Linked DNA regions of Homo sapiens. The protein of the gene in region 1 interacts with the protein of each later gene in a biochemical or structural test. Each region holds a gene or a part of one and is shown in the gene's direction. Other genes may lie near its edges.

Evidence for each region.
Region 2: of the proteins of PTPN12 (region 1) and TEK, one has a biochemical effect on the other in vitro, tested with the Homo sapiens proteins (one large-scale study listed by IntAct).

What each region holds. Positions count from the first base shown.
Region 1 is NC_000007.14:77,543,704-77,547,530, forward strand, and holds part of PTPN12 (tyrosine-protein phosphatase non-receptor type 12), read left to right. Parts: intron 1-3,827. UniProt on the Homo sapiens protein: Dephosphorylates a range of proteins, and thereby regulates cellular signaling cascades. Dephosphorylates cellular tyrosine kinases, such as ERBB2 and PTK2B/PYK2, and thereby regulates signaling via ERBB2 and PTK2B/PYK2.
Region 2 is NC_000009.12:27,171,563-27,175,389, forward strand, and holds part of TEK (angiopoietin-1 receptor isoform 1 precursor), read left to right. Parts: intron 1-1,053; coding exon 1,054-1,185; intron 1,186-1,659; coding exon 1,660-1,800; intron 1,801-3,827. UniProt on the Homo sapiens protein: Tyrosine-protein kinase that acts as a cell-surface receptor for ANGPT1, ANGPT2 and ANGPT4 and regulates angiogenesis, endothelial cell survival, proliferation, migration, adhesion and cell spreading, reorganization of the actin cytoskeleton, but also maintenance of vascular quiescence.

The sequences.
Region 1 (3,827 bases):
ATCTACCTTCTGTTTCCATAGATTTAAGTATTCTGGACATTTTATATAAATGGAATCATACAATATGTGGTGTTTTGTGACTGACTCCACCTAACATGATGATTTCAAGTTTCATCCATGTTATAGTATTGATCCGTAGTACTTTTGGCCTTTTTATGGCTGAATAATATTCTATTGTATAGATACCACATTTTGTTTATCCATTCATCGTGTTGATGGGTATTTGAATTGTTTCCACTTTTTGGCTAATGTGAATAATGCAGCTATGAACATTTGTGTACAAGTTTCTGTGTGGACACATTTTCAGGTCTCTTGGGTATATATCTAAGTGTGGAATTGCTCAGTCACGTGGTAACACTATGTTTAACATTTTGCGGAACTGCCAGACTGTTATCCAAAGCTGCTGCACATATTACATTCCAATCAGGAATATATGAGGGTTCCAGTTCCTCTACATCTTCACCGATACTTGTTGCTGTCTTTTTGATTATAGGCATCCTACTGGGTGTGAAGTGGTATCTTCTTGTGGTTAGCTTGTAAGATTTTGTGTGTCTTAATTTGTCTTTCAAAGCTAGAGTGATAGGAAATATTTTCCAGTCCTTGCATTTGAGCTAATCTTAGTGCTTACCCAGTGCCACTGGTTTAGTTATGGTTTTCTTATCCATCCTTTGATGAGTATTCACCTAAACATATTTACATCAACTAACTTCAGAAGTGGAAGTGAACTTTTAAGTAACTCTCCAGACATGGTTCACTGAGACAGTAAACTAAAAATTTACTTTAAGCATTCTCAAGAATGTTTTACTTTATTTACTTTCAAAATATATTAACTTTTTTCCATCAATATTTGATATTTAACTTGGAAAAAGGATTTTTAAAGGATGAAACTGAAAGTAAGACATTAACATTTAGGTGGCTGTAGGTTTTTTGTTCATATGTTAAATACTTCTGTGTTTCTGTAGCACTGAGTTCATTAGATTCATAAATATTTACATTTCTGTCTTCCCCAGACTGAACGCCTCCCAGGCTAGAGACTGGGACTTAATTATCCCTGTATCCCCATTGCTTAATATAGTGCTTGGCATTTAATAGGCACTAATGTCCATTGCATGTGCAGACATTGTAGACAAACTTAATGCTGTAAGACAGATTTATTCTTCAGGTGAATTCTTCAGTGGTCCAAGGGTTTGTCTTCTAGACGATCATGAGAACTGCTTCTTCCCCTCCTACACAGATGTGCTCACATAACTCGTTGTATTTTCAGTATCCACTGAAAAAGAAAATACAAGATAAGAGCTACATTGAATTCAAATATTTTAAATAAATATGATTTTATTAGCTGCAGTTTCTTAAGGTAACTTCTGTATTTGTGCATCCCACACCCAATGGATCATACTTTGTTGACATTGTCTTAGAGTATTAATAAAATGTCTTTTAAACTTTTGGCTTTGGACTTAATAAAATCAAGATATCATGTCATCGGTATCTCTTCAAAAATAGTGAATTTGTGGGTATTTAGAGAGTGATTACAAGTGATATCTGTTGTTCTCTACTTGCCTCTAGTTTCTTTCCTCATCCAGTCCATTCAACACATCATACTCACTTTCAAGTGGCAGCATCTGTAGGCTAATGGAAACCATACTGGTTGTACAATCAGGAGATGTGGGCTGCACTGGAAGCATGGTTTAATTTTTATTATTAAAAATATAAGTTAAAAAAACTCATTGCTCCCTTTGATGACCATTACAATTATTGGAAATTTTAAATGTGTATTTTGAAAGTCAATTCAAAACATATGATCCAAGTGCTGCTCCTTTTTCAAACTGTAATTATGTCTGTCTCTCTTTCCAGAGAGATTTGATTCCCTGATTTTTCCCTTCTCAGCTCCCTCCAATTTTAAATATATATATATAGTTTTTTTTAATAATTAAAAAAAAATACTTCACCTGGAAGTTTTCATCCAATTTTGTAACTTTGGTCCTAGTTGAGAATCACAGGCCTATAGGATAAAGTCTGTACTTCTTAGCCTGGCATTCCAGAACCTTCTTAACATAATGTCACAGTACCTTTCCAGTGTTAAACTTCTATACTCTGGTATGTATCCTCTCTTCTTTTTGAAGGAAGCTATTCCTGGTCCTTGAGCATACCTACTAAATGAATGAAATCTTGCTTATCTGTGGTTGTACTGTTGAACATACTTTTTCCCTCAGAAAGCTTCCCTTTTATTTTATTTTATTTTATTTTTTTGAGACAAAGTCTTGCTTTGTTGCCAGGCTGGAGTGCAGTGGCACCATCTCAGCTCACTGCAACCTCCGCCTCCTGGGTTCAAGCAATTCTGCTGCCTCGGTCTCCTGAGTAGCTGGGATTACGGGCGCCCGTGACCACACACAGCTACTTTTTTTATTTTTAGTAGAGATGGGGTTTCACCATGTTGGCCAGGATGGTCTCCCCTTTTATTTTATAAACCAGTACTTGGAAGATGAGAAAGCTAAAAATTTAAAATGACTTCACCATGTTCACCAAAAACTCAGAAGCAAAAATGTGATTAATTCTCACCTTCTAGAATAAATATTTTAGCACAGTTAATCTTAAAGCACTTTTTCTCCTTTGTAAAGTTTGATCTTTAATATCACAAGAAAAAAAGCCTTTCATTAGATTTGAGTTGAAAACTTGATAAGGTAAATCAGGTGATATGCAATTTCTAAACCACTAGTCTTTTCCAAATATGAGTTGAACTCCTCTTCCAGCATTTTATATTTCCTGTAGTATTTAAGTTTCTTTAGATTCATGCAGTCAAACCTTGACAATTATCTCCTTCCTTCTGAAATCACACAAAAATCTTGTTTGCATTTGTACAGTATTGTAGGGTCTGTAGCTGGCCTATGGCAGATATAAGAAGCAAACAGTAGTTGCTCCCTAAAAGTTTTTTTTGGAGAAAGTGGAGTGTGGACTGTATTAGTCCATTTTCACACTGCTATGAAGAACTGCCCGAGACTGGGTAATTTATAAAGGAAAGAGGTTTAATTGACTCACAGTTCAGCATGGCTGGGGAGGCCTCAGGAAACTTACGATTGTGGTGGAAGGTGAAGGGGAAGCAAGGCACCTTCTTCACAAGGTGGCAGGAAGGAGAATGAACATGGGAGGAACTACCAAACATTTGTAAAACCATCAGATCTTGTGAGAACTCACTATCAGGAGAATAGCATGGGGGATTATAATTACATAGGGATTATAATTCAAGATGAGATTTGGTGGGGACACAAAGCCTAGTCATATCGTGGACCATGATAATCTCAGAGGCTTTGGGAAGTGTGCTAATATCTACATTTCCTGTAATAACTTTTATATCTAATCGGCATTTAAAAAGCTATTTTAACAACATTTGAGTGACTGTCCTGATAGGCTCTGAAGGAATGCAAAGATTTGTCTCTGTCATCCATCCATGGTCTCTGTCATCCATCCATGGTCTCTATCATTTATCCATTCATACAGAAGGTATTTATGGAGATACCTGAGTGCCCACTATGCCCTAGGTACTGTGTTTTTGAATTGACAGTTGAAAACATGGCAGTACTCTGTTCAGGAAGTTTACTAACTGAACAGACCTGTGAGAAGCAGCGGGACTTTTCCTGGGGGCAGTGGGTGGGCTTCAGGGGAATCTTTGAACCCTTTTAAATTATATATAATATTTTTTGTGTGTAAGCCCATTTTAGGGGGAAGAAAGTTCATAGCTCTTAGTTTCTCAAGGAGTTTGGGTCCCTTAGACTAGTGGAAAGATAAGGAGTTTAGGAGCTATACAGTCATTAATTTCTATCCTGGCCCTGCTG
Region 2 (3,827 bases), on another chromosome or scaffold:
TCTATGGACATAAAATATAGCAAGGTGTTTTATAGGCAGGACTATTTGGGCTTGAGTCGAGGGGAATCTTTCCACGTACCCAAGACCTATTTCCTTCTGGATGACTACTGTGCTTGACTTCTATTAAATGTCAGAGCAGCCTTTTTGTAATATGAATCTTAAAAAATATAATTTATGATGATAGCAAAACTGCAATATTCAGCTTCTAGTAGCTTGCCTCACAGCTACCTTTACATGAAGTTTCTGTGGACTTGGGAGAAGCAAGTGACATCCCCTTTTATTCCACTACTCAGGAGAGTCTGAATGTCAAGGAAGCAATTTGCCTTTATTTCATTTAGCTAGTTTCTCTGGAGTCTGATATAACACCATGTACTAGGTGTACTCAGAGGGTAAATGGGGTACATCTTCTAGGAAGGTCAGACATACCTATACATGTTGATATATAGTTGTTTGAGATAGGAAAACCAAAGTGTTTTTCCTAATCTCTGCTCTCACTGAACACAACACTTCTGACACCAATGTGCACAGATTACTACGCCACTTCTAGAATTTCTCATTCAGTAGGTCGTGGTTGGGTGGGATCTGGGGTTTGCATTTCTAACAGATTCCCAGATGATGGGGATGCTACTGGTCAGAGACCACACTTTGAAAACCACAGCTCCAGCCTGTAACCATACCTGCAGCTCCCTGGACATGCCATGCTGTCTTCCCATGCCTTGTCTTTGCCTGGAAGACACTCTCCAGCCTTATCTTCTTTGCTACTTAGTTGGTCCTGCAGATTCAGCTTGCATACCATATCCTCTGGGAAGCCTTCCTTTATGCCCTCTTCTATCCACCAGACAGAGTTAGGTACTCCTTGTCTTTGTTTCTGTCGCGATTTCCTGTTTACATGTCTGTCTCCCATATTAGATGATGAGCTTTTAGAGAGCAGAGCCTGTATTTTATCTTTATTCACCATTGTCCACTGAATGACTGACACACAGTAGGTGCTCAATAAAGATGTGTTGAGCGAATGCGCTCTACTCACCACAGCCTTGTTTTCCTTAACAAAAGGATGTGAAGCCCAGAAGTGGGGACCTGAATGCAACCATCTCTGTACTGCTTGTATGAACAATGGTGTCTGCCATGAAGATACTGGAGAATGCATTTGCCCTCCTGGGTTTATGGGAAGGACGTGTGAGAAGGGTAAGTAAAGAGACTTGATAAGTAAGCTGTGGATTTAAAAAGCCATCGTTGCTGGATCTAGAATTTTAGATCTCGACACAGATGGGAATGGACGCTAAATGGCCTCTGTTAGGTCAGATGGTACCTGTGTGTGAATTAGAAAAAGGTGCCTTTTCCTAAAGGTTCTTTAATGCCAACCACTGGAAAGTTATAATAAATATACAGATCCGTGATGTTTACAGTGTGAATGCTGCCCCCTAGGTTTGTGCACTGCACAAACCTGCATGATTGTGAGTGATGTCCCTGATGTCTGCTCTGTGGGGCAGTTTCATTATCAGTAAAATGGGCCATAAGGGTATGTTCATCCTACCATGCCACAGCTGAGATTTGACTGTTTCCCATATTCACTAGACTAGGAGAAATGAATCTAAAGAATTATGTATTTCAAGGGGTTGCATATTTGACTCTGAATCATCTTTTCTTTTCCTCCCAAAGCTTGTGAACTGCACACGTTTGGCAGAACTTGTAAAGAAAGGTGCAGTGGACAAGAGGGATGCAAGTCTTATGTGTTCTGTCTCCCTGACCCCTATGGGTGTTCCTGTGCCACAGGCTGGAAGGGTCTGCAGTGCAATGAAGGTATGCACCAATCACACCCTTGGACAGAGGATGTTCTAGCAGGTATATAAAGGAGATCCAGTTTGCTGTCAATCACAACATCGGATATACCTGGACTGCTTAGCTACCCACTACTGGACAACAGGATTTTGAATCATGGATGTTTACATCCAATGTTAATTATACTTTCACAGTAAAAATCTAGACCGCATAGAAAGTACTTCTCATAACTATCATCTGGGGATCTTTACTAAAGCACGGATTCTGATTTGGTAGGCATGGACTGGGGCCCGAGGTTCTGCATTTCTAACAGGCTCCCAAGTAGTTCCGATGTTACTGGTTTTCAGACCATGCTTTGAGTAGGAAGACCATAGAAGACTTGTTTTTTTTTTTTGGTTTTTTTTTTTTTTTTTTTTCAGTGAATCATAAAATCACAGCTTTAGCCAGGCATGGTAGCACATGCCTGTTGTCCCAGTTATTCAGGAGGCTGAGGCAGGAGGATCCCTTGAGCCCAGGAGTTTGAAGCTGCAGTGAGCTATGATTGCACCACTACACTCCAGCCTGGGCAACAGAGTGAGACCTCGTTTAAAAAAAAAAAAATCAAAATCAGAGCTTTTATGTCAGATCCAGACAGGATTTGGGGCTCAAAAATTGAAGAAGTTAAAATCTTACCTGCCGTGGACCTTATGCAAGTAGTACTAACATCATCTACTCAGAGTCCCTCTGCCCTTTGTAAAATAAGCTTTCCCATTTGACCAGGCTCTGTGGAGTGCATCTGACATCCACTTTTCAGTATGCATTTCACATCTACTGTTGCATAGTAGCTCAACATGAACCTGCAGACAAATGTGACAGAACCTCCCTAATGTATATTAATACTGTGAATTAGCCAGAGCTCAAAGGCTTTTCAGTGTTTATCTCACAAAGTCAGCTTTTCCCATATCCGGCACTAAAGGTAGCTACGATGGGGTCCCAGCAACTTGATAACAATGCTCCAGGGCAGAGCAGTTCAGTAGAAATATAAGCCATCCACATATAGAATTTAAAATTTTCTAGTGTCCACATTAAAAAAGTGAGGAGAAATAGGTGAAATAATTTTGATCTATTAACCCAATATGTTAAAAACATTATCAGTTCAACATGTAATCAATAGAAAAAAGTATTAATGAGATATTTTACATTCCCTTTTTCATAGTAAGTCTTTGAAATTTCAGTTTGGACTAGCTATATTTTAAGAGTTCCATAGCCACACGTGGCTAACTGTACTGGACAGCATAGCTCCAGGGGCTTGGAGGAGGAGGACAAAGAGGAGAGTTACACAAAAGTAAGCTTCAGCCACCTGCAATACCTCATTCAGTTCCCTCTAAATGCTATGTCTGCCCCCCGGAACATGCAGTGAGCCACAGCAGTGGAGAAATCCCATCTGGCCTCTGAAGTGTGTATGTTAAGGTAAAAGGTGACTCCAGGCAGGGGGCAGATCCCTTGTATTTTAAAAAAAATTAAAATGTTACGCAAACTATGAACACTTTGCTAGGACCCAGGAAGCGGTGCATGCCAGCAGTCTCTAGAACATAAACTTCATCAGCTTTGTAGTGAATGTGTCTCTGGGCCCAGGTTTTTTTGTTTTTTTTTTAATTCTTTTTATTATTATTATTATTATTATACTGTAAGTTTTAGGGTACATGTGCACAATGTGCAGGTTAGTTACATATGTATACATGTGCCATGCTGGTGTGCTGCACCCATCAACTCGTCATTTAGCATTAGGTATATCTCCTAATGCTATCCCTCCCCCCTCCCCCCACCCCACAACAGTCCCCAGAGTGTGATGTTCCCCTTCCTGTGTTCATGTGTTCTCACTGTTCAATTCCCATCTATGAGTGAGAACATACGGTGTTTGGTTTTTTGTCCTTGTGATAGTTTACTGAGAATGATGATTTCCAATTTCATCCATGTCCCTACAAAGGACATGAACTCATCATTTTTTATGGCTGCATAGTATTCCATGGTGTATATGTGCCACATTTTCTTAATCCAGTCTATCATTG